Homo sapiens: one gene and its partners. The protein of the gene in region 5 interacts with the protein of the main gene of each other region in a biochemical or structural test. Each region holds a gene or a part of one and is shown on either strand. Other genes may lie near its edges.

Evidence for each region.
Region 1: the proteins of PRPF40A (region 5) and WASL form a complex in vitro, tested with the Homo sapiens proteins (one study listed by BioGRID).
Region 2: the proteins of PRPF40A (region 5) and RPL4 form a complex in vitro, tested with the Homo sapiens proteins (one study listed by BioGRID).
Region 3: the proteins of PRPF40A (region 5) and RCC2 form a complex in vitro, tested with the Homo sapiens proteins (one study listed by BioGRID).
Region 4: the proteins of PRPF40A (region 5) and CYFIP2 form a complex in vitro, tested with the Homo sapiens proteins (one study listed by BioGRID).
Region 6: the proteins of PRPF40A (region 5) and FMNL3 interact in far-western blotting, tested with the Homo sapiens proteins (one study listed by BioGRID).
Region 7: the proteins of PRPF40A (region 5) and WIPF1 form a complex in vitro, tested with the Homo sapiens proteins (one study listed by BioGRID).

What each region holds. Positions count from the first base shown.
Region 1 is NC_000007.14:123,739,004-123,742,503, reverse strand, and holds part of WASL (actin nucleation-promoting factor WASL), read left to right. Parts: intron 1-3,500. UniProt on the Homo sapiens protein: Regulates actin polymerization by stimulating the actin-nucleating activity of the Arp2/3 complex. Involved in various processes, such as mitosis and cytokinesis, via its role in the regulation of actin polymerization.
Region 2 is NC_000015.10:66,497,515-66,499,685, reverse strand, and holds the end of RPL4 (large ribosomal subunit protein uL4), read left to right. Parts: intron 1-33; coding exon 34-279; 3' UTR 280-1,671; downstream 1,672-2,171. Other genes in the region: SNAPC5 (snRNA-activating protein complex subunit 5), read left to right, coding at 1,955-2,044. UniProt on the Homo sapiens protein: Component of the large ribosomal subunit. The ribosome is a large ribonucleoprotein complex responsible for the synthesis of proteins in the cell.
Region 3 is NC_000001.11:17,412,178-17,415,677, reverse strand, and holds part of RCC2 (protein RCC2), read left to right. Parts: intron 1-1,960; coding exon 1,961-2,141; intron 2,142-2,499; coding exon 2,500-2,605; intron 2,606-3,483; coding exon 3,484-3,500. UniProt on the Homo sapiens protein: Multifunctional protein that may affect its functions by regulating the activity of small GTPases, such as RAC1 and RALA. Required for normal progress through the cell cycle, both during interphase and during mitosis.
Region 4 is NC_000005.10:157,391,623-157,395,122, forward strand, and holds part of CYFIP2 (cytoplasmic FMR1-interacting protein 2), read left to right. Parts: intron 1-1,210; coding exon 1,211-1,378; 3' UTR 1,379-3,500. UniProt on the Homo sapiens protein: Involved in T-cell adhesion and p53/TP53-dependent induction of apoptosis. Does not bind RNA. As component of the WAVE1 complex, required for BDNF-NTRK2 endocytic trafficking and signaling from early endosomes.
Region 5 is NC_000002.12:152,710,962-152,714,461, forward strand, and holds part of PRPF40A (pre-mRNA-processing factor 40 homolog A), read right to left. Parts: intron 1,407-3,500; exon of another isoform or gene 1,343-1,406; intron 1-1,342.
Region 6 is NC_000012.12:49,648,406-49,651,905, reverse strand, and holds part of FMNL3 (formin-like protein 3), read left to right. Parts: intron 1-455; coding exon 456-524; intron 525-613; coding exon 614-738; intron 739-1,027; coding exon 1,028-1,230; intron 1,231-1,980; coding exon 1,981-2,215; intron 2,216-2,367; coding exon 2,368-2,436; intron 2,437-2,566; coding exon 2,567-2,647; intron 2,648-2,747; coding exon 2,748-2,877; intron 2,878-3,500. UniProt on the Homo sapiens protein: Plays a role in the regulation of cell morphology and cytoskeletal organization. Required in the control of cell shape and migration. Required for developmental angiogenesis.
Region 7 is NC_000002.12:174,587,805-174,591,304, forward strand, and holds part of WIPF1 (WAS/WASL-interacting protein family member 1), read right to left. Parts: intron 1-3,500. UniProt on the Homo sapiens protein: Plays a role in the reorganization of the actin cytoskeleton. Contributes with NCK1 and GRB2 in the recruitment and activation of WASL.

The DNA of each region.
Region 1 (3,500 bases), on a different chromosome or scaffold from region 5:
GGTTTTTAGTTTCAGTGGTAGACTTAATAGTTATAGTGAATTGACTTGGTTACTTTAGAGACTGATTCAAGATTGAGGTTACTGTGGGGATTCATTTGTGTGATTAAAATAATCTTGGTTTTCTTAAATTTTTTTGTAATGCACTGGACAACATGCTGAAATTATGGCTTATTATATTAGTGAATTTTGTATTCCTGAAACAGCATACCAAGAGACACTAGAACCTTTGACAGAACTTTTCTGAAACCCAAATGAATGCCAAAATTAGGCATGCTTTTAAGATGCAAAGGGCTGGGTTTTATCTTTTACTGTCTTTCTTGCTTATTCAACTTCTGTTCTTGCTGTGCTCTGGATATTAGAAAGCACAGCTCTTGAGGAAAAGATGTGACTGGGCCTTTTGAACAGTGTCTCTTTCACCAAGTTCTGCCAGTCACTCTTTGGCCATCTCTCTGTTGTGGACAGTTGTAGGGATTTTATTTAAAATATACTATTTTTTTAAAAAGTTATCTTTTAATGTAAAAATTGTATCTATGAGTAATATCAGATTATAAAGTCTGGAAATAAAGTCTTGATTAGAGAGCAGGTTTGATTAGGACATTCAGGATTCCTCATAACATATAGAATTGGAGCTACTTAAGCGTTGGCCAAAGTACAGAGGAGCCGGGTTCTATTTGTTTTGCTGCTGAGCAATTCCTACCATGTGTATCAGTATTCTAGTCTTCTATAGTAAGATTTTTAAAAAGTCTTTATAAAAACTGGTAAGAGCAAAACTTTCCTAAGGAAATGCATGCTTGTAGTAATCTCATGTATTTCACTTTTGTCCATATTCTATAGATTTTTTAAATAAATAATATTAATGGAAGTATAATGGTAGCCCATTCTAGTTTTGAGTAGAAAAACAGATTTTAAAAGAGCAGATAAGGGTTGAACTTTGTTATAATTTATTCTGTCTAGAAGTCATAGCTTTCCTAATAGAGTTCACTCTTACTCTAAAGGTTCTAGAAACAAAAGTTTATACATTCATAGTCACAGTAATAGGATATACATTGTTAACTATAAATATAATTCTTATAGGTCACCTAGCATCGTTGATGGATTCTTGGAAACTGTGACTTTAGGTGAAACAACACATAATGAAACCAGTTTTACCATAGGGTAATTGATATAAACAAGAGCTAAGTTTCTGTAGCATATATCACCAAACTTCTAAATAAAGACAAAAACACTTCTAATATTAATTAATGAAATAAATGTGAGCTGTAACACATTTAAGAAAGAGTAATAAAAACAAGATAATTATTTACCCAGTTACTTCACTTCAGTCTCAGGTGGCTGGAGCCTATCCTGGCAGCTCAGGGTACAAGGCAAGAACCAACCCTGGACAGGACATCATCCCATCGCAGGGTGCACTCATACCTACACCCACAACTCACTCGCACACTTGCTCATCCTGGGATAATGTAGACAGACCAGTGAACCTAACATGCACATTTTTGGGATGTGGGAGGAAATCCAAGTACCCAGAGAACCCAATAGACATGGGGAGTACCTGCAAACTCCACACAGACAGTGACCCCAGCTTGAAAATGATTTTCTTTTCTCATCAAAGTTAATAATGGGCTGGACGTGGTGGTTCACACCTTTAATCGCAGCGCTTTGGGAGGCTGAGGCAGGAAGATCACTTGAGGCCAGTAGTTTGCCACCAGCGTGGGCAACATAGACCTAATCTCTACAAGAAAAAGTAGCTGGTAGTGGTGGCCCATGTCTGTAGTCCCAGTTACTCCAGAGGCTGAGGCAGGAGGTTCACTTGAGCCCAGGAATTCAAGGATGCAGTAAGCCATGATGAGGGCATTGCACTCCAGCCTGGGCAACATAGGAAGACCTGGTCTCTTAAAAACAAAAAAAAAAGTTATGATGAAAGGACATTGAACAAAATGATGTTGAACAAAAGGATGTTATTTGAGGACCTGCTGTATTAAGTATTTAGTAATTAGGAGACATTTGGCATGCTTAACCATATTCATAAATATAGTGTAATACAAAATAAATCTTATTTATTGCATCTATGTTAGTAGTCTCAGAAGTATTCGAGAGTTATACTGATATAATAGCATATAGGAGAGTAAAACTAATTAGAAAACATTATTTTCTCATAGGAGTTAATGCACTGTAGAGGAATTGTAACCCTTTTTTTAAAGAGACCAAATAATTGACTGTAATGTTGAAGAGGTAAATACAGAAAAGCCCCTCAAGAAAATGTGATCAAATGAAAGATATATATATAAAAGATAATATATGAGATATATCTGACATATGTATGAGATATATATGTCTTATCAATCAACTCCTTTACTAATACATAAACTGATGCATAAACTAGCTAGAAACTGAAATGATTTTTATTAGTGAAACGTAGTCAAGTCTTGAGGACTTACTAAGCACATAACACCCTCCCAGTATCTTGGAATATGAGGGAGCAGTAAGGAAAATCCAGGTTTTACCCCTCAGTTATTCACTGTATAGCTGAAGAAGACAAAAATTATGCACAAAAAGATATATGCTGCAAACCAGCATATATATATATATATACACACACACACACACACACACACACACACACACACACATATATAAATGTATAAAAGATTTGAATAATAGAGAGGAGAGATAGGTATATCATTGTGGGACTTGAATATGAAAAACCTTAAATAGCCTAGAGAATTGATGTCAGAAACAAGCAGCTTATCAGGTACAGATGCTCTTCTACTTATGATGGATTATGTCCTGATAAACCTGTCGTAAGTTGAAAATGTTGTAGTCAAAAATGCATTTAACACACCTAACCCACCAAACATTATAGCTTAGCCTAGCCTTCCTTAAATGTGCTCAGAACATTTACAATAACCTACAGTTGGGCAACCTGATGTAACACAAAGCCCATTTTATAATAAAGTGTTGAATATTTTACATAATTTGTTGAATACTGTACTGAAAGTACAAAACTAAATGGTTGCATGGGTACTCAAAGTATGGTTTCTACTGAATGCATATTGCTTTCGCACCATTGTAAAGCTGAAAAATTGTAAGTGGAACCATCATTAGTTGGGGAGTGTTTATATCAGGAAATGTGTAAACAAAAGTTTGGGATAGAAAATGTGTATAGAATTTTAGGAGGCATTGAGGAGACTGGTTGGCTAGAATTGAGAATGACATTTGCTTGGGCAGATAGTGGATGGTAAGTTTGAAGAGTAAATTGAGGCTAGATTTTGGAAGACCTTTGAACTTCAAGTCTTAAGGATTGAACTTTATTCCCTAGAAAGTAAGGAAACACTAAGATTTCTTCAAGAAATTTCAAGATAGGAAGGATCTGGAGAAAGAAAATTGGAAATTATTATTCATAATAGAAATAAGGATTGAGTAATACTTTATTGTTTACTAAATTTCTTATTTATTAGTTCAGCACATCAGATCTGACTAAGAAACCTGGAATTGTGGCAGCT
Region 2 (2,171 bases), on a different chromosome or scaffold from region 5:
GATTCTTACTGTTTTCTGCCTAATTTGTTGCAGCACAAGCTCCGGGTGGATAAGGCAGCTGCTGCAGCAGCGGCACTACAAGCCAAATCAGATGAGAAGGCGGCGGTTGCAGGCAAGAAGCCTGTGGTAGGTAAGAAAGGAAAGAAGGCTGCTGTTGGTGTTAAGAAGCAGAAGAAGCCTCTGGTGGGAAAAAAGGCAGCAGCTACCAAGAAACCAGCCCCTGAAAAGAAGCCTGCAGAGAAGAAACCTACTACAGAGGAGAAGAAGCCTGCTGCATAAACTCTTAAATTTGATTATTCCATAAAGGTCAAATCATTTTGGACAGCTTCTTTTGAATAAAGACCTGATTATACAGGCAGTGAGAAACATGACTTGGTGTGCTCTGTAAAGCTTGGTTAGAATTTTTTTAAAGTGACATTTTGTTGGCCATAATTTAGACTGTTACATTTTATATAGTGTGGTATAAAATGGGGCATGGATTTATACTAAGTCCATGGAGTTCAGTGGAAGGGGAATGATTTAAAAAAAGTTGTGGTTTTCTAAATAATGTGGCTTGAAAAATAGGTGTAACAGGACTTGGTCAGAAACGCAGAGGCTGTTCAAGTTTAGCTCCCCACCAGATGGAAAATAGGTTAAATTCTGTAAAGATTTAACTTTAACCACAAGAGGGCACAACTGGAGAGCACAATTTTTTTGGTACTGCAGTAAAATTGATTACCTCTTGAGAAGTGTTCTTTTTAACCAGCTATAACAATAGAGTTGAGTATTTTCACCCATGGTTTGAAAAAGTGCCAGAAGGCCACACTGGCCCACATCTGTAATCCCAACACTTTGGGACCCTAAGGTGGGCAGAGCACTTGAGCCAATGAGTTCAAGACCAGCCTGGTCAACATGATGAAATCTCGTCTCTACTGAAAATATAAAAAATAGCCAGTCATGGTGCATGCCTGTAACCCCAGCTACTTGGAGGCTGAGGCAAGAGAATCACTTGAACCTGGGAGGTGGAGGTTGCAATGAGCCAAGATTGTACCATTGCCCTCCAGCCTGGGCGTCAGAGCAAGACTCTCTGAAAAGTACCAGAAGCATTTTTCAGGACTGCCTGTGTGTCTTGGTGATTATGTTAACCAACTGTGTTCAAAAGAAGTACCCATGAAATGCCTCCAGATATAAGGGTGTTTTTTTTTACCCATAAAGCTAAACTGCAAATATTACCCTAGAATTAACCTCTTGTCCTGTGTCAAAAGTCTTGTTTTGCATCTGGATTGTTAAACTGTCAGCTTCTCTCTGACAGTCTCGAACTGTCAAGACAGTCTCAGTTCACAGCCAAGGTGATCTGTTAACCCTCCCCATTTCCAGGGCCAAATCTCAGTTCTTAAGCACGTCGTTTCTTAGCACGGCTTTATTTTCATGCTCTTTATTTCTCTATTTTGTGCAGCCTTACCCCTTTAAAGTCCACTGTGAGTCCTACCCTGCAGGGCCTCTTAACACAGTAGAGTTCATGTGCTACTGATTTGGTGCCTGCCTTCAAACACATGTGCAAGTTTTGTGGGGTTAAAGATAGCCACTTGGTGGCACACCACATTGGAAGTGCTGTTCACCCGGTCATTTGAAACGGTGTTTGACCACTTGGTGCGCAAATGGCCTATCGGATTAAAGGATAGCCAAACCCAAGATTTCTTCAGGTTCTTTACAGCTCCATGGATCTAATTTCAAAATCCTGATCATTACTCATGAATCAAGGTGTTTTGACACAGGCTGTACCCCTTCCTGCAGCTCGTCCCCCGCGGAGTGGCCAGGCTACGGCGGGCGCCGGAAGGGGGCGCACTCCTCGCCTTTCCTCAATGTGTCGGGCAGCCCCGCCTCCCCGCTCGGTTTCCGGGAGTCGGCGGCGATGGCGTCATCACCGAGTGCCGGGCCGACAGCAGCCCGGAGGTTGGCTATGTGACCAGGCAACATGCTGAGCCGGCTTCAGGAACTGCGCAAGGAGGAGGAGACGCTGCTGCGGTTGAAGGCAGCCCTGCACGACCAGCTGAACCGCCTCAAGGTGACCCCGCGGCCCTCTCCTGCCCCTCCTCCATTCCTCCCGAGCGACCATTTCCCCCCAACCTGGGCCTCTGTGGTGACCACCTGCTGCGGCCAGTTCTCCGCTACTCACTAGCTGTGGTGGCGCC
Region 3 (3,500 bases), on a different chromosome or scaffold from region 5:
AATGCAGTGGTGGGATCTCAACTCACTGCAACCTCTGTCTTCCTGTTTCAAGCTATTCTCCTGCCTCAGCCTCCTGAGTAGCTGGGATTAGAGGCACCTGCCACCATTCCTGGCTAATTTTGTATTTTTAGTAGAGATGGGGTTTCACCATGTTGGCCAGGCTGGTCTCAAACTCCTGACCTCGTGATCCACCTGCCTCGGCCTCCCAAAGTGCTGGGATTATAGGTGTGAGCCACCGCGCCCGGCTGTTAGTGTATCTTTTAATTTTAATGGCCTTCCTGTGGTTCTTCTGTCTGAGAATGCCTAGGAGTCTCTTTGTTCTATGCTTTGTTGAAAAAGCCTGGGCTAGGATTCCAGAGATCAAGTTGGTCCTCCCCACTGAGTGGTCTCAGCTCACCACCTCCTTCCCTTGGAATCTTCTTGCCGATGAAGAATGCCCAGGGAATTGGGCTAGGACTAGGGTAGGAGATTTCAGTTTGTGCAAGTCCAAAAACTGATTTGTTTTGTCTGATGTAGTCAGGGGAAATAAAGTTGGCTCTTGTTTAGGGCCTTATAGGCCAAGTTTTTTAGTAAGTTGTAGATTCCCATGGTTTAGACATGAAACATCAAAGAACTGAATTGGCATGTCAGAAGATGGGAAAACGAGACTGAAGAAGATAAATCTTAAACACTTGAAGTGTCTCTGAGTTCATTTCATCAGTGACCAGGTACAGGTTACCTCTGTACCTGTGGGTGAGGGAAGTCTAAAGAAAAATCCAGGCCGGGCGCAGTGGTTCATGTTTGTAATCAGAGGACTTTGGGAGGCCAAGGTGGGCAGATCATTTGAGACCAGCCTGAGCAACATGGTGAGACCCCCATCTCTACAAAAAAACCACAAAAATCAGCTGGGCATGGTGGTGCACACCCAAGTCCTAGCGACTTGGGAGGCTGAGGTAGGAGAATCGCTTGAGCCCAGGAGGTGGAGGTTGTGGTGAGCCGTGATCGTGCCATTGCATTCCAGCCTAGGTAACAGAGCACGAGACCCTCTCGAGGGGGGGAAAAGAAACGAAAAATCCAGGAACAGGTAGGCCTTTTCTGTTCTTTCTGCAATTGAATCTGTTTTTTTTTTGTTGTGTTTTTTTTTTTGTTTCGTTTTGTTTTTTTTTTTTGAGATGGAGTCTCATTCCGTCACCCAGGCTGGAGTGCAGTGACGCTATCTCGGCTCACTGCAGCCTCCGCCTCCCAGGTTCAAGAGATTCTCCTGTCTCAGCCTCCTGAGTAGCTGGGATTACAGGTGCACACCACTGTGCCCAGCTAATTTTTTTGTATTTTAGTAGAGATGGGTTTCACCATGTTGCCCAGGCTGGTCTTGAATTCCTGAGTTCAGGCAATCCACCTGCCTCAGCCTCCCAACGTGCTAGGATTACAGGCATGAGCCACTGCATCTGGCCGAATCTCTGTTGTAGTGGGAATCAAATGATTGCCCAACTCTCAGGAGACATAGCCCTGTTGCTTCTGATTAAGGAAAGGGTTAAGACTTGTAACTTAAATAAATAAACAGAACAAAAAAGGATTGGAAAATGGAGTCCCTGGCAGAGAAAATAGCAAACTGGGCTTATTGAATGCATGCCATTTTGCTACACTTGCTCCTGTTGCCTCCTCCCCCACTGCTGGAGGCGGGAGGTAGAGGATCTTTCTGCTGGAGGCAGGCAAAGGATATTTCTTTGGTTTTTGGAGACAGGGTTTCACCATGTTGGCCAGGCTGGTCTCAAACTCCTGACCTCAAGTGATCCACCCACCTTGGCCTCCCAAAGTGTTGGGATTAGATGTGAACCACCGTGCCCGGCTGGTAGGGGATCTTGAATGTTGCTGTTCCTTTGCCCTTAGCATTTGCACCAGGTTGTCTGCACAGAAACGATGACCCCTCTTGTTGCCTGTTGGAAGTCTGTTTGTTCCAACCCTGTGTTTTCTTTCCTTGCAGCTGGTCCTGGACTCCCAGAAGCGAGTCTTCTCCTGGGGCTTTGGTGGCTATGGCCGGCTGGGCCACGCAGAGCAGAAGGATGAGATGGTCCCCCGCCTGGTGAAGCTGTTTGACTTCCCTGGGCGTGGGGCTTCCCAGATCTATGCTGGTTACACCTGCTCCTTTGCTGTCAGTGAAGTGGGTTAGTGATTTCTGCCCCCTGGCTTATCAGTGCTCTGGTGCGGAACCGTGTAGCCATTGTCCTGTCCCTAGACCACGAACCCCAATTCTCTTTACCTCCCAGTGTTCTTTATTTTTTTGAGACAGGAACTCGTTGTGTTGTCCAGGCCGGTGTCGAACTCCTGGGCTCAAGCAGTCCTACCACCACAGCGTCCTGAGTAGCTAGGACTGCACAGGCACGCCACCACGCCTGGCTCCAGTTATCTTTTAGACAGAACACTTGTTTGCCATCCCGTCCTCTTTTCACCCTGATAATACTGAAGATGAGACTCAGCTCTCGATGTCTGGTCACGCTGGGAACATGTTTTGTCTTCCCTTAGGTGGTCTGTTTTTCTGGGGGGCCACCAACACCTCCCGTGAATCTACCATGTACCCAAAAGCAGTGCAGGACCTCTGCGGCTGGAGAATCCGGAGCCTGGCTTGTGGGTAGGTGGCAGCATCTCCTGTGGGTATGAGGTCTCTTCCTTTCATGGGGGTGTCAGACACACCCATGGGGTGCCCCTCCCTGATGGGGCTCTGTTTCTGCTGCCTGTTGGGCTGTCCTCAGCAGGCCATCTGACACACTGAATCCCAGAGTCCGGGGGTACAGGAGGGGAGAGGGCCCATTTGCTGCTAGAACAGATGGCTGTTCCCTGTCTTGTGGGAAGAAAGTCATTTTGAAGGTTTCTGTTCAAAGAAATAAACAAGCAGAGCTTGATGTATTCCTACGCTGCAGGTTGAAAATTATACGTAGTTGGAAACGTAGCAGGACTTGAGTTGCTGTGACACTGGGAAGACGACATTGTCTTGGCAGCAGTGGTTTGTAGTTCATTTCAGGACACCTGTTGAGTTAGCTAGCACTTCTTGCTGAGGAGTTGGATTTATCAGCTGGCAGGTGTGGGTGGAACAGTATGAGGGGCCTCTGTCGGCGTGGCTTTAATCTGTTGAAGGCTCTAGCCCTGCCCAAATCATTATGCATGAAGGCTGCTCCCTCTGGAACAGGCTTTCACTTTATCCTGATCTGGTCTCCTCTTCCCAAAGCGACCTCCCACTGAGAGAGAGCTGTGCAGGATGCACAGCAAGGTCCCCTGCCTTTGGCCCCTAGGCCTGTCTAAGGGCTTTGTTGTTTTGTTGAAGCGTTGAGTGGCCTGCACGGAACAATCTTAGGATTGAGGAGAAACCTGTTGGCCCTGTTATTGTGTTTGCTACTTGGAATGAGTACGCCAAGGGAAAAGTGGCAGCTCACACTCATGCCCTTGAGCCATAGCTGCGTGGGTGCAGGTCTGGGGCTGCTGGCCCTGCAGTGACAGCCTGCCTGTTTGCAGGAAGAGCAGCATCATTG
Region 4 (3,500 bases), on a different chromosome or scaffold from region 5:
TATGGCTGTATAATATTGCATTGTGTATATAGACCACGTTGTGTTTGTCCACTCAGGTTGCTGTCACCTTTTGGGTATTTTTGAAAATGGTTAATTTTGGCTACCATGAAACATGGGTGTACAAATAACTCTACAAATTTCTGCTTTCCATTCTTTTGAGTATATACCTGGACGTGGAATTGCTGGATCGTATGGTAATTCTATGTTTAACTTTTTAGAAACTGCCATTCTGTTTTCCATAGTGGCTGCACAATTTTACATTCCCACCAGCAGTACACAAGAGTTCCAATTTCTCCACATCCTCATCAGCACTTATTCTTTAATAATAGTCATCCTGAGGGGTGAAAAAGTTATCTTGTTGTGATTTTGATTTGAATTTCCCTAATGACTGTCACTGCTGAGTGCTATATTCATGTGTTATTGGCCATTTGTATATCTTCTTTAGAAAAATGTCTATTCAAGTCCTTTGTCCATTTTTTTAATTGAGTCATTTTTGTTGAGTTGAAGTTCTTTACATATTCTAGATATTACTTATCAGATATAATTTGTGATTATTTTCTATTTTTCGGTTGCCTTTTCATTCTCATGGTGTCCCTTTGATGCATGAAAGTTTTCAATTTTGATGTAGTGCAACTTTTTGCCTTTGCTTTTGATGTCATACCCCAAGATATTATTGCCAAATCCAACATCATGAAAATTTTTCCCCTATATTCTCTTTTAAGAATTTCAGTTTAATCTCATGGTTACGTCTCTAATCCATTCTGAGTTAATTTTTTGTATATGGTATAAGGTAAGCGTCCATTGTTATTTTTTGTGTGGGTATCCATATTTCCCAGCACCTTTTGTTGAAAAGGCTGTTTCCCCCATTGAACAGTCTTGGCACCCTTGTTGAAAATCATTTGATCATATGTGTAATAGTGTATTTCTGGGCTCTCTATTCTGTTTTATTCATCTGTACATCTACCTTTTTACCAGTGCCACAGTGTTGTTGATTATTGTAGCTCTGTAGATCGTTTTAAAACTTGGAGAGGGTTTTTACGGTCCAGTTAACACTTGATTGCCAGATCCAGGGGATTCCATAAAAGGACTTTAAGAAAGTGACATGATCACTGATGCAGGGGACCCTGGACCTCAGTGACTTCTCCTGTTACTCCCTCTTTCCACCCCCACTTTGTCCTGCCCTAACTTGAACATCCCCTTCCTTCTGTAGCCCCTGAAGAAGATGGCCGACCGGATCAGGAAGTATCAGATCTTGAACAATGAGGTTTTTGCCATCCTGAACAAATACATGAAGTCCGTGGAGACAGACAGTTCCACTGTGGAGCATGTGCGCTGCTTCCAGCCACCCATCCACCAGTCCTTGGCCACCACTTGCTAAGCAGAAGATCCTGCAGACCCTTATCTGGAGGAGGAAGAGAAGCAGGAGAGAGAAAGCCACAGCCAGCCTGCCATAGGATCCAACTGGACAACGTGTGGGATGGACCTGGAAACAAGCACCTCCCCAAACACATCACCACTCCCTAGGGCGGGGCCTGTGCATGCTCTCCCATGACATCTCCATGCTGGTTTCTCCATAGCATAAATGAAAAAAAAAAAAAAAAAGTAAACAGGGCAGTGTGTGCTTTTTCTTTTCTCCCCCCTCAACTATATTAAGAACTCCTAGTTTCACCCTTTCTCCATCCCATCATCCCACCTATCTGTGGTTGCTTCCCAAGACCTCCTCCCAAGATAGACATCTCCTACCCAGTGCCCTTGTGTGACCCCAGGACTCAAGTCTCAGACTGTGAACAGATGTGGCCATGCCCAGAGACGCCAGCCTGGCCAGAAGGGCATGCCTCAGCTTACTACTTCATCTCTCCTGGTTCCCTCCCTGCAGTGCCCCGGGTGTCATCTTCTCCCACTCTGGGTACCAGGGATTCTACCACATAGGCTTCCCAAAGCCCCATTCTAACTCCCCTCTCTCAGGGAAGCCCTAGAGAGAGGTCCAAAAAGCATTCACAGCTGTATCACACTCTATGCAGGTGGGGTAGGAGACTGATCAGGCCTGCTGTGGGGAAGCAGTATGTATGAACACAGCCAGAAATGTCATAGTCCAAACAGGATGCTTTCAGGCCATCTCAGCTGCTTGATGGTGAGATGGTTCCCTTATTCCTTCAGGAAAGGCTTAGCATTGGGCCACATAGGGGAAGCAGCTTTGAACAAATCAGTCATAGCACTGCCTATAGCATTAGCCAGTGACCAAATTAGGGACAACGTCTTGGCACAGAATTGCTTATCAAGGAACATTTCCACAAGAAAGAAAATATTAAGGGGTTATTTCCACAGAAGCCCAAAACGTCTTGGAAACACAGAGGTGAGGAGGAGGAATAGTAATTGTCAATGAGCTTTTAATACCAAGATACACCCCCTGCCCCCAAAGAAGAGTCCTCTTTTAGGGAATCAGAACCTTCATTGTCCTAGAAGCTGAAAGATTCTTGGAACATTTTAGCTTTTACTCTCAACTTGCTGTTCTCTTTACATTCCTTAAGTTAGACTTTCGGGTGTGGCTTCTCTCCCAGGGGTAACATTTACTTCCATTTTCTAGACTGAACCAAAAGTCTTCTGCAGAATCTCCCACCGAGTGTGGTAAGAAGGAAGGACAAAAGGCTTTAGGATATAAATTTCATGTTACAGAGCATGTCATTGTCAAAGGAAATCTGTGGCCCTGAGATTTTAAGAACATAAAATGTGACATTTGATATTTCTCCAGCCCAGGGAAGTAAGATGGTTAGCAATGGTTGCCTTAATCAAATGGTCCCATTTTTAACCCCAAAGGAAGTGCCCACAGCAAGAGGTTTGTGTGATGCACTTATGTCCTCCGGTGAGGAAAGGGGGCCACATATGAAAGGCCCCTTAGGTCAGATCCTGAGAGTAGCACATTTGAGTGCAGATTCCTGGGCCCCACCTCAAACCTACTAATTCTGAATCTCTGGGAATAGGGCCAGGAAATCTGCCCTTTCTACAAACTACCCAAGTTGTTCTGTTGCACATCAATGTTTGGGAACCACTGCTGTAAGGGAATCATTCTGGTCACCTTGAGCTTTGAGCTACCACTAAGCCATGAAAGAAAATACATCATACAGGGAAGAGAGAAGGGAGGAGGTTCCAAGTAGTAACTGGCAGATCCTCCTGTCTGGAGGTACCACCTTCTATTCTGGTTTCTGACTTTTCCTTCTTGATGACCATAGATGTGTTCCAGAGGCAAAAGAGACACATTATCCCAGATGGCAGAACATGCTTTCAAAACATATAAAATGTCAAAGTTCCAGATCCTTCTACATCTTTAGTCCTGTCTGAGGATGGTAGCTGGCTCTCTGTAGCTGATAGATGGCTAGAGTTCCATCCAAATCCTTGACCACGACTTCATGGAGATTTGAATAATCTATTTGATGAGATTTCTATTTCAATAACCCACCTCTCTCACCCCACATTCATATCCCTAAATTTGACCCTCTGGGCCG
Region 5 (3,500 bases):
GTCAAGAATTTACAGACATTAGGTCTGAGTTAAGATATTTTTTAAAAGTACTTGCTTGAGTCATCCACATGTACCCAGAAGTTACCCAGATTCAAGAATTATGAGCAGATGACCTAAAAAACAAAAATTCTATCTCTTTTTTGTCACTGGCTAATGCCCAATTCAATGGCATGGATCCTGTAGCTACTCAAAAGGAAGGGTAATTCAGAAGGAACAGCAACAAATAAATTTGTCAAATCAGTCAGGTAAGTCTAAGGTACCAATACACTAAATTTCTCTGCAAGGCCTATATCCTACTTTGTTATTTTTTCCTCTACATTACCTCTACATTACTTATAATACCTTACACAATGTAAATGCTATAAAAGTTATTATACTTTATTTTTAAAAATTTGTATTTTTTTGTTGTTGCTTTTTTAAAGACTATTTTCCATCGCAGTTGCTTGAATCTCTGGATACAGAGGGTCGACTGCAAATGGAAATATTTTAGTTTTATTCTCCAAACAAAAATTATTTATTTCATCTTATTTATCTTCCATTTTTGTCAAATGAAAAAGTAAGAGTAAAGAGGCAGACACTAAAAACAAGAATAAGTAGTAACAACGTAAAGTCACAAGTAACCACTGGAAACAGTCACATTTAACACTGACTGACTTATGGGCTTATACTGCAGGAAAGAATACCTGTGTATTTGTTTCATTCATTCAACAAGTATTTTACTGAGCACCCATGATGTGCCAAGAACTGTGCTCAGCACCTATAGGCTTCTTAAAAAGTACAGAACATAGCCCCTGCCCTCTAAGAGCTTACAATCTATTACTTGTTGGAAAATTAAAGCAAATTAAGAAACCATAAAACAAGTCAATAACTAGGTGCCAAAATAAGTGAAACGGTAAGAGTTATGGGTAGATTACAAATATTTTCTTTAATAATCTGAAGGGGAGGTATATGTTGGCAAAAGTCATTTTTGAGAAACTTTTGGAGAAGGCAGGACTTGAAATAGTACAACATAGGTAAGCAAAGCAAACTTCATGGTGATACTGAGCTGGGGGCAGGAGGGTAAGAAGAACAGCCTAAGTTTGAAGTTGTGAACTAATATAATCACTCAAGACACCGTGAAAAGACCAGCCTAAGTTCAAATTAGGGAGTGTAAAGACATGCAGCCTTGAATCCTGCTTTGACATGTACTATGGGGAGGTTCTTTAAAGTTAAGCTGTGGAATTTAGATACTATGTTATAGGCACTGAAAGTACTGGAGATTCTTGGGCAAGGAGATAACACATTGAAATCTAAAATTTGTGGGGGCAGGGGGGCATCCTTGAAGCAAGAAAACCAACTCAACTCAAAAACTGTTGAATAACCTAGGCATGGGAGAGTGACGACTTGGGCTCATGTGGTAGCAGGAACTGAAATAAAATAAGATCTATTAGAGCCAGCCTTACTCAATATAGGAGCAAGAAAATCAAACTCATTTGTAAAAAGCAATTATTCATTTATCAGTTTACTGACCAAAGACCAAAAAAAAAAAGCACTGAATAAATAGAATTAGGGAGGCATTACTAAAGGAATTTTCTGTTCTTTCCATATCATCCCATAAAATCTGATATCTACTCTTATCAAATGATCTGAACTGAATCATAGGATGTTAGAGCTGAAAGGGACCTTAACTCAATTACTCTACTCTTCTCACTGATAGAGGAAAATAAAGACTCAAATAGGGAGGAAAAAAAAAGAGCCAGCTAGCATGACTCTGGGGCAAAGGCATAATCATCTGTGATAAAGATGGCAGGACCTGCATGTCCTTTGTGTAGAAAACACAAAAGACATGAAAACAGTATTTACTATGGACACTGAGGAAGAAGACAGCCTCACACATAATTTTATTGATAGAAATCTCTACAGAAAATCTTTATTTTTTTGAGATAGGGTCTCACTTTGTCACCCAGGATGGAGTGCAAGGCGTGATCTTGACTCACTGCAGCCTCGACCTCCCAGGTTCAAGCAATCCTTCTGCCTCAGCCCCCTAAGTAGCTGGGACGACAGACGCACACCACCACACCCAGCTTATTTTTAAATAGTTTTTGTAGAGATGGGGTTTCACCATGTTGCCCAGGCTGGTCTCCAACTCCTGAGCTCAAGCGATGCACCCGCCTCAGCCTCCCAATGGGAAATTTTTGAGTACTGCCATCCAGCAGGGAAAATTCTTTATCTTTCTTTACTAACATTTAACCAGTGATCCTCAAAGCATCTTAAATCACATATTATTTAAAGCTTAAACAACCTGTAAGGTCCCTTTCAGCTATAAGATCCTATAACTCTAAAAGTATGACTTTCCTATAAAGTTATATAGAATAAGAGGCAAATTTAATCTACAAGATAGAAAACTGAAATAAACCTGAAAGAATATTAAGCTCAATTTGATAATCATCAAATATTTATTACTACTAAGAGTCAGCCTAAATGCATGAGATGGCACTCTAGGTCATCTCATGAATTAAGAAAAAAAAAATTTGAACACACCACTTCTTTAAGCTAAATAGCTTGATGCATTTGAGAAATTATGAACCCTGGCTTCCGTACATCATTATGCTACCCAGTCTGCATATTATTTTACAAACAAGTTTTACAGTTTCATGTCATATTGGTAACATTCCAAAGACCACAATTATTTGGCAAGTAAGACTGCCACCAATTTTAGTCTTTAGCTAGTCCCAGCATGAGATGTTCATGCAAACCAGTCAACACATGAAGGTTTTTATAACCTTCAGTCCCAAAGTCTAAAGAATTTGTGAACTGACTTTTTTAAATTGCATGGCAGAACCCTCCCAACTGTCACTACTGTGAATGATACAGACAGACATCCTGCTTCTTCTCAATTATCTTCTGACCACTTATTCCTCCTGAGTACTTCCAAGAGTGGCAGAAGAAATAATGCAGGAAAAAGGATCAATTGTCCTATTTATTATCACCTTTAATTTTTAAAGCAATGTTTACAGAGTTTCAAATATGATTTCTGATTTGAGAATTCAAATTATCCATGCTCTCCCAGTCTGTTATAAAGCTAAAACAAGAATTTGTTTTACCAAGATTTGGGACCCATATTTGTTAGTGAAATATTAAGGGGATAAAAGGGAATTATATAATTCTGACAAAAACAGCGGAGATTCTTTTGGGACTTTCAGGGCATAACTCCTACTAAAACATTTATTTATTATACTAACAGGAGCCTTCAGAGGGAGAAGAATTCTAAACATCTAAATAATTAGGTCTACTTAAAGGCACGTGGCATATATTAGCCTAGGAAAAAGTAGAAGAAAACCACACCAAAAAAATCAGTTATTTGAATGGATGTGTACCGAGTAGCAAGTAAACTTACTAGAAAGATGGTCACTGATACAGCTAAAGAGAAAGGGCCATAAAGCAAACTGTGACCAGCTTATGTCAATGAGATACATGAAAGTACTTTTAAAAAATAAAATCTGCATTTTTTTTTTTAACTA
Region 6 (3,500 bases), on a different chromosome or scaffold from region 5:
CAGGGGCAGCCTCTTTGTGGGGACCAAAACTGTAGTCAGCAGTGTCTTCCTCAGGGAGAAGCTGGGAAAATGGCATTATCTGAGGACTTGGAGGGATATAAAATCAGGGTGAGGGAGGCCTGGAATCTGAGGGAAGCTCAAGTTATCAGCACAGGGATGCCCAAAGGCAGATGTGGACCTGTTTTAAGGATCATAAAGATGTTGCTCCCAATTCCTTTGAAGACAGCCAAGGAGAGGCTTAGACTGTAGCCATAGAAACTGGGTCAGAGACCAGCAACAACTGCCCTGTCAGAGTTAGATTTCTGGGAGCAGCTTGAGCAGAGTTCATGTAGGCTCCTTCTCTGAGAGTTTTTTTTTTTTTTAACTCTCAGAGAAGGTGGGACAGGCAGAGGGGAGGGAAGCCTATGAAGAGTCTCTTGACGCCTGGGTCACTGTGTCATTTCTTCTTCCCCCAGACAAGTGTCCCCCAGCCCCACCTCTCCCTGGTGCTGCACCCTCTGTGGTGTTGACAGTGGGCCTGTCAGGTGAGTATCCCCAGGGCTCTGGGCAGGGCTGGTGGGACCAGGGGTGTGTGTCCTTGGCCCCTGTGTCACTGATCCTCCTTCCAAATTAGCCATTCGAATTAAGAAACCTATCAAGACCAAGTTCCGGCTGCCTGTCTTCAACTGGACAGCACTGAAACCCAACCAGATCAGTGGCACTGTCTTCAGCGAACTTGATGATGAGAAGATCTTGGAGGTAACAGGGCCTGGGGTCCAGAGGGCTAAGGTTGAGGGCTAGGGACCTGGTTGCCTTTTGAGGAGATTCTGGTCTTAGAAAAGCCATCAGACAGGGTGAGGCCAGGCTTAGCTCCACCAACCCTTCATTCTTGAGTGTACGTATATTTCTAGTTGTGTCAACACTTTGTGTTTGTATTCAGGAAATATTCCAGAGTGACAGAGCTCTGGGCCAATGCTGGGTGGGCTGTCATGAGGTCCTCCACTAGTATGAGGCTACAGCGTTTTCCTTGCTCACCTATTCCTGCCAGGACCTGGATCTTGATAAGTTTGAAGAATTATTCAAGACAAAAGCGCAGGGCCCTGCCCTTGACCTCATCTGCTCCAAAAACAAGACAGCGCAAAAAGCTGCCAGCAAGGTGACTCTGTTGGAAGCCAATCGTGCCAAGAACCTGGCCATCACCCTACGCAAGGCTGGCCGCTCGGCTGAGGAGATCTGCAGGGCCATTCATACGTGAGGCTCCCACTGACCTGGCTCTGGTCCCTAGTCTGTTGGCAACCCAGTTCTCCACCCAGGAGCCTGGGTTTCCCTAGATTCCAGGTCATCTGACAGAACTCCCTCACATCCCCCTAGTCATCCACTGGCTTGGCTAGAATTTACTGCATCTGTGCTGGCAGTTCAGCCCAGACCTTCACCCAAGGAGCTCTCAGTCTATTGGGAACAGTGCAGTAACACTGAGTGATACCACCAGGATGGTAGAAGTATACAGGCAGCTTTGGGAGAATAGGGAGGTTCATGTAGCTGAGCTTGGTGATGAATGAGGGAAGCCTTCCCAGAGGAGGTAATGTCTCAACTGGGACCTGAAGAAAAGATATGAGTTAGTCCAGTTCAGGGCCTGGAGGGAGAAGCATAGTGCCTTGGGTACTAAAAATTGAATCTGGCTTTAGTGTAGGGAGAGGAGCAGGAGAAGGTAGAGAGTTGGGCAGAAGTCTTGCAGGCTGGACCTCGTAAGCCATGCTCAGGTGTTTGGACTTCACCCTAGGTACAGTGGGAGTACATCAAAGGGCTTATTAAACAGGAGCATGGAGTGTTCCCCCGGGATCATTGCTGGTGCTGTGACAGATGATGCAATGGGTCCTTTGCCTTTGGCTGTGTTCCGTGTACAGTCCCCTGTCCAGTTCTTCTAGGAGCTTGGAGAATAAAAGGGATGAGGGAAAACGTGGAGAGATGTGAGAACTGAGGTGGTCCCTCCCTCCTCCACAGGTTTGACTTGCAGACACTACCTGTGGACTTCGTGGAGTGCCTGATGCGCTTCCTGCCCACAGAGGCTGAGGTAAAGCTGCTGCGGCAATATGAGCGGGAGCGGCAGCCCCTGGAGGAGTTGGCAGCTGAGGACCGCTTCATGCTGCTCTTCAGCAAGGTGGAACGGTTGACCCAGCGAATGGCTGGCATGGCCTTCCTGGGGAACTTCCAGGATAACCTGCAGATGCTCACACCGGTACAGCCCCCACCCAACTCATGGCTCTGGACAGCTGTCCCTCCACCCTCCATCTGCTAGTCACCTCCCCTGCCCTTCCAGTCCTTCTGACCCCTCCCTGTCTTTACCCCATCTCAGCCTGGGGTTACTTCAGTGTTCATATTGTCCTACAGCAACTCAATGCCATCATTGCGGCGTCCGCTTCCGTCAAGTCTTCACAGAAGCTGAAGCAGATGTTGGAGGTGGGAAGAGGTTGTGAACAGGGGTGCTGGGGGTTTTCAGGTCCTAGGTGGGGGCCTGGGGCTATACAGAGAGGAAGAAGGAGCCTTCAGGACCTGAGCCTGACCTGCCTCCCACACATTCTTTGGACAGATCATACTTGCACTGGGGAACTACATGAACAGCAGCAAGCGGGGAGCTGTGTATGGCTTCAAGCTCCAGAGCCTGGATCTGGTAAGATGGTGAGGGCAGCGTGGGCCAGGAAGCCTGGGGGGCAGCAGTTGTGGAGCCAGAGTGCTTAGCTCTTGTGCACCGCCCTCACCCCCTCTCCTAGCTGCTGGATACCAAGTCCACTGACCGGAAGATGACACTGCTTCATTTCATCGCCTTGACAGTGAAGGAGAAATACCCAGACCTGGCTAACTTCTGGCATGAGCTGCACTTTGTTGAGAAGGCTGCAGCAGGTGAGGAGAGCCTGGCTGGGTGGGCCTGCCCTCACATCCAGCCCAGGACAATCCCAGGAAGCTATGAGGAGAGAGAACACTTGGGTCCATTTGTTTCTGGCTTTTGTTATCTTCTTTCTGACCACTTCAAAGCTTTCCGCTGGAGCCTTAAGCAGGGGCCACTCCAGAGGGAGCCTTCCTCCAGGCGCCAGGCCTGGCCCAGCCCAGCCCTTCCCAGCTAGGTACAGTGGGAGCAGGAACAAGAAGGGGAGCAGTCGCTCTTTACTCCCAACTCCCTCAAGCTGGCCCCAGAGGTCTTGTGTTTTGTGTATGATGTATGTGAAGTGCTTAGAAAAAAATCATAAAGCTCTCTATAGACATGAGGTAGCTGTTATTTCTGCCCCACCCATGAACCCTAGGGCAGGCCTGAGGCAGTTTCATTTTGGAGACCAGCAGTCTCTGTGGCTTGCCTGCCTTTGCTACTGTGTTCTTTGGGGTCACAAGCTCAGTTTCCATTCCATTCCCTCCCCCTGTGAGGGATCAGCTAGCTTGGTGTGTACTTCCTTATGTCCATACAGGTATGTGAACCTGAGTGAGCCCATGCTGAGGGGGAGGGCCAGAGTTTGATATAGCTCTGGGCTGGG
Region 7 (3,500 bases), about 22 Mb from region 5:
CTGCCTCACTCACTCACTGCCCTTTTAATGGTCTGATAAACACTTTCAGGCAGGCGAATTAGTGCCACAGCTCACCTGTTAACTAGGCTGGAATCTGTTTTCAGTAAGAGACTGTCTCAGGCAAGGATTCTTTTAAAGTCTGTTTCTTAAATTGCTCTTTCTGGCATGACATCAATTAGTCACCCATAGGGCCACATGGGCATTGTGAGCAGGACTGGGTGCCTGTGTTAGGGGGTCCTCCATCAAGGGGCATCTCCAGCGGCACATTCAGAGGCCTTGGAGTCAGACGTCTCCTAGGACCAGCAGGAACGAAAGGGATCTGATTCAGGCCTGACTACTGCGAAAGATGCTGGAGCCAAATCAATGGTATGATCAGAGTTGGGAAAGGCTTACCAAGGAAGGGGGATAGCCTGGTCTGCCCGGTGGGCCCAAGAGATGGGCTGTGGGAACAGTGCATCCACGTGCTTGGTTGATGAAAAATCCCTCAAGACTATTTTGTCTGACTCCACGTTCACCGATTAACTTTCTGTCATTCTGTGATCCTAATATCTAGGAAAGGGTGGATATTCTGGTCAACTAACAGGAACCTCTTATGGGTATGGTTGTCATGAGTTCGGCTCTCGTAACAGAGATCAAATTGAACTTCTGTCCTGCACAGCTTAGGGGGCAGACTGTGGAATGGGGACCCTTTCAGGGGCTGCCACCCTGAAAGGCCTCCTTAATTATTTTACAATTCTCTGTTGCTGCTGTTTTAGTACTGTCTGTGCACTAACTGACTTGTATATTAACTTCTGGATGACAGCTCCAGGGAGGGCGTGTTAACTTCATGGTCCAGAGGGCTAGTGTGGGAGAAATGGCAACAGTCATGGCTGGGGCCAGAGCCAAGGCCAGATTGCAGAAATTAGCAGGCAAAAACAAGGTTCAGGGAGCAAGATGCTATTAAAGGGTCTGAGGTATTGAAAGAAGTGCTGCCTTTCCTTCCTGGCCACTTCAGATGGACAGTGGGGAGAGGGTCTACGGGTGAGGGCTCTCACTTTTTAGAGGGTGATGCAGAACTAAGTGCTCTTTCCTCTCTTCCTCTGCGAACTTGTTTGCATGGCTTGCTTTCCCTGGCCCCATCTCTCACTCCCCTCCAGATTAACTGTCCCTTTCCAATCTCAATGGTAACACAGATGAGGGAGGCTGCCATGTCCTCTCTCCTCCCTTCTAGCTGAACAACTGCTGGGCACGGTCTGGACTTCTCCAGGCTGGGGCCTCAAGGGAAGTGTGTGAGAAACCCCAGACTCCAATACTGCCACCTCACTCAGCCCCTGGATCAAAGACCAAGCTCGTGTGCCCCAACACTGGGCCCACCGGCCACACCAGGCCCACTTCTTGGCTGTCTTTCCACCAGCCTATGGACTCCATGGGGTCTTGCCAATACCTGGCACAAAGTAGGGTTCTTACTAAATATATATGCAGTGAAAGAACTGTGTATCACACAAACAAGCCGAGTGCTTGCCACTTGAAGGGCTCCCAGCATCACCCCACCGCACTGTGAGATCTGGGCAAAAGAATCAGCCCTATTTCAGAGGGGCTTGCTAGTGTTGCAGACTGGAACTTACTTTCCTGGCAGCCTCCAACTTCCCCAGAGAAGTAGAGCCCCAAGGCCCTGGGAGAGGAGGGCTTCCCTCCTCTCATGGACTTGACAGCCCACATCAGAGCCACAGCCAGATCTTACTGAAGGCCTTGGCCCTAGAGCACGGATCCTAACAGACCAGGCATTCCTGCCTGGATCCTCACACCCAGAGTCTGTGGATAGAATTCAAGGGTTCATGAACTTGTATGAAAAAAAAGTACATATTATTTCTACTAAGCACTAACTGAAATGTAGCATTTCCTTTGATTATGAATGCAGGCCACAAACCATAATATCTGATATTCTTTCACCCATAGTTTTCACGTGATATTTCACATCATATTACAACTACACACCAACAATTTTCAACATGCTGGCAACGTTTAGATCCATTGCTAGATCTTGTTGTTTAAACCATTAATAAAGAAGTACATATTTTAATAAATTAGTTTCCTTTGTAATTCTCTGTATTTTATTTTATGCATTTAAACGTAGACACAAAAGGGTCCCTTTGGGACTGGGAGTGGTGACTTATGCCTATAATCCCAACACTTTGGGTGGTCAAGGTGGGAGGACTGCTTGAGCCCAGGAGTTTAAGACTAGCTTGGGCTACAAAGTGAGCCCTTTATCTCTAAAAATAAAATAAAATAAAATAAAAACAAATTAAAATTAAATTTTTTAAAAAAAGGAGTCCTTTGGGCTTTACCAGTGGGTTTATAGAATGAAAAAGGGAGAACATGAGACCTTGGTCAGGCAAATTTGGTTCTGAATCCTTGCTCTGCCACCTGGCAGATTCAGATGGGAATTTGTTTTTCCCATCTGTTAAATGGGAAGTTGCTGAGCAGATTAAATGAAATGGTGTGTGCAAGGCTTTCAGCATGGCCTGGGGGAGCAAAGCTGTCAGTGGACAGGGCTTAGCTCTGTCCTTCAGAGGGTGAGGATGGGTCCTGCTGGTACAAGCTGCTGAGTGCCTGGCAGAGGAGGGATGGACCTGGAGGCTAGTCTGAGGGGCCACAGCTTTGCTCAGTGGCTGTGGGTGGATCTGCCTGGGTGGGAATGAGGCTGACTGATGACTGGGCCTCCCAGCATTTGGTTCTTCCCTTGGAGATGGGAGCATGGCAGGAAAGGCAGCTGATTCGGGTGCAGGAGAGACGCAAGAAGGGAAGGGACTCAGCAGCAGTTTCCCAGTGTGGTCAGTCATCTCCTGCATCAGAATCTGCTGTGCCTGTGTCCGGCTTCCCAGACTAGTTGGGCTCTCAGTAGTGTCGGATCACATGCCTACCCACTTGCTGGGCCTTGCCCTCCTACCCCACCCCAACCCAAGCAATGAACTTTTAAGAAGTCACACTTTTCAGAATTAATTTCTTTTTAAGAATAATTTCAATGTTAAGTAACTTTCATGATAGAAAAGCCAGACTTTCTAAAATCTTTACTTGGTGTGTTGACTTCTACAAACACAAAGAAAACTCAAGGGACAGAAAAGGCTTTTGTTTTCACATACAGTATTACGGTCTGAACTATGTCCCCTGCAAAAGTGATATGCTGAATTCCTGACCCTCAGGACCTCAGAAGGCAACTGTATTTGGAGATAGGGTCTTTAAAGAGGTGATTAAGCTAAAATGAGGCCATTGGGTGAGATCTTAATCCAATTTGACTGGTGTCCTCATACAAAGAGGAAGAGACATCAGGCATGTGCTCACACAGAGGAAAGTCTTCAAGTGAAGACGCAGTGAGAAGGTGGCAAACCAAGGAAAGAGGCTTCAGAACACACCAAACCTGCCCACATCTTGATCTTGGACTTCCAGCTTCCAGAGCTGGGAGAAAACAAATTTCTGTTATTTGATCTACCCAGGCTGTGGTATTTTATTATGGCAGTCCTAGC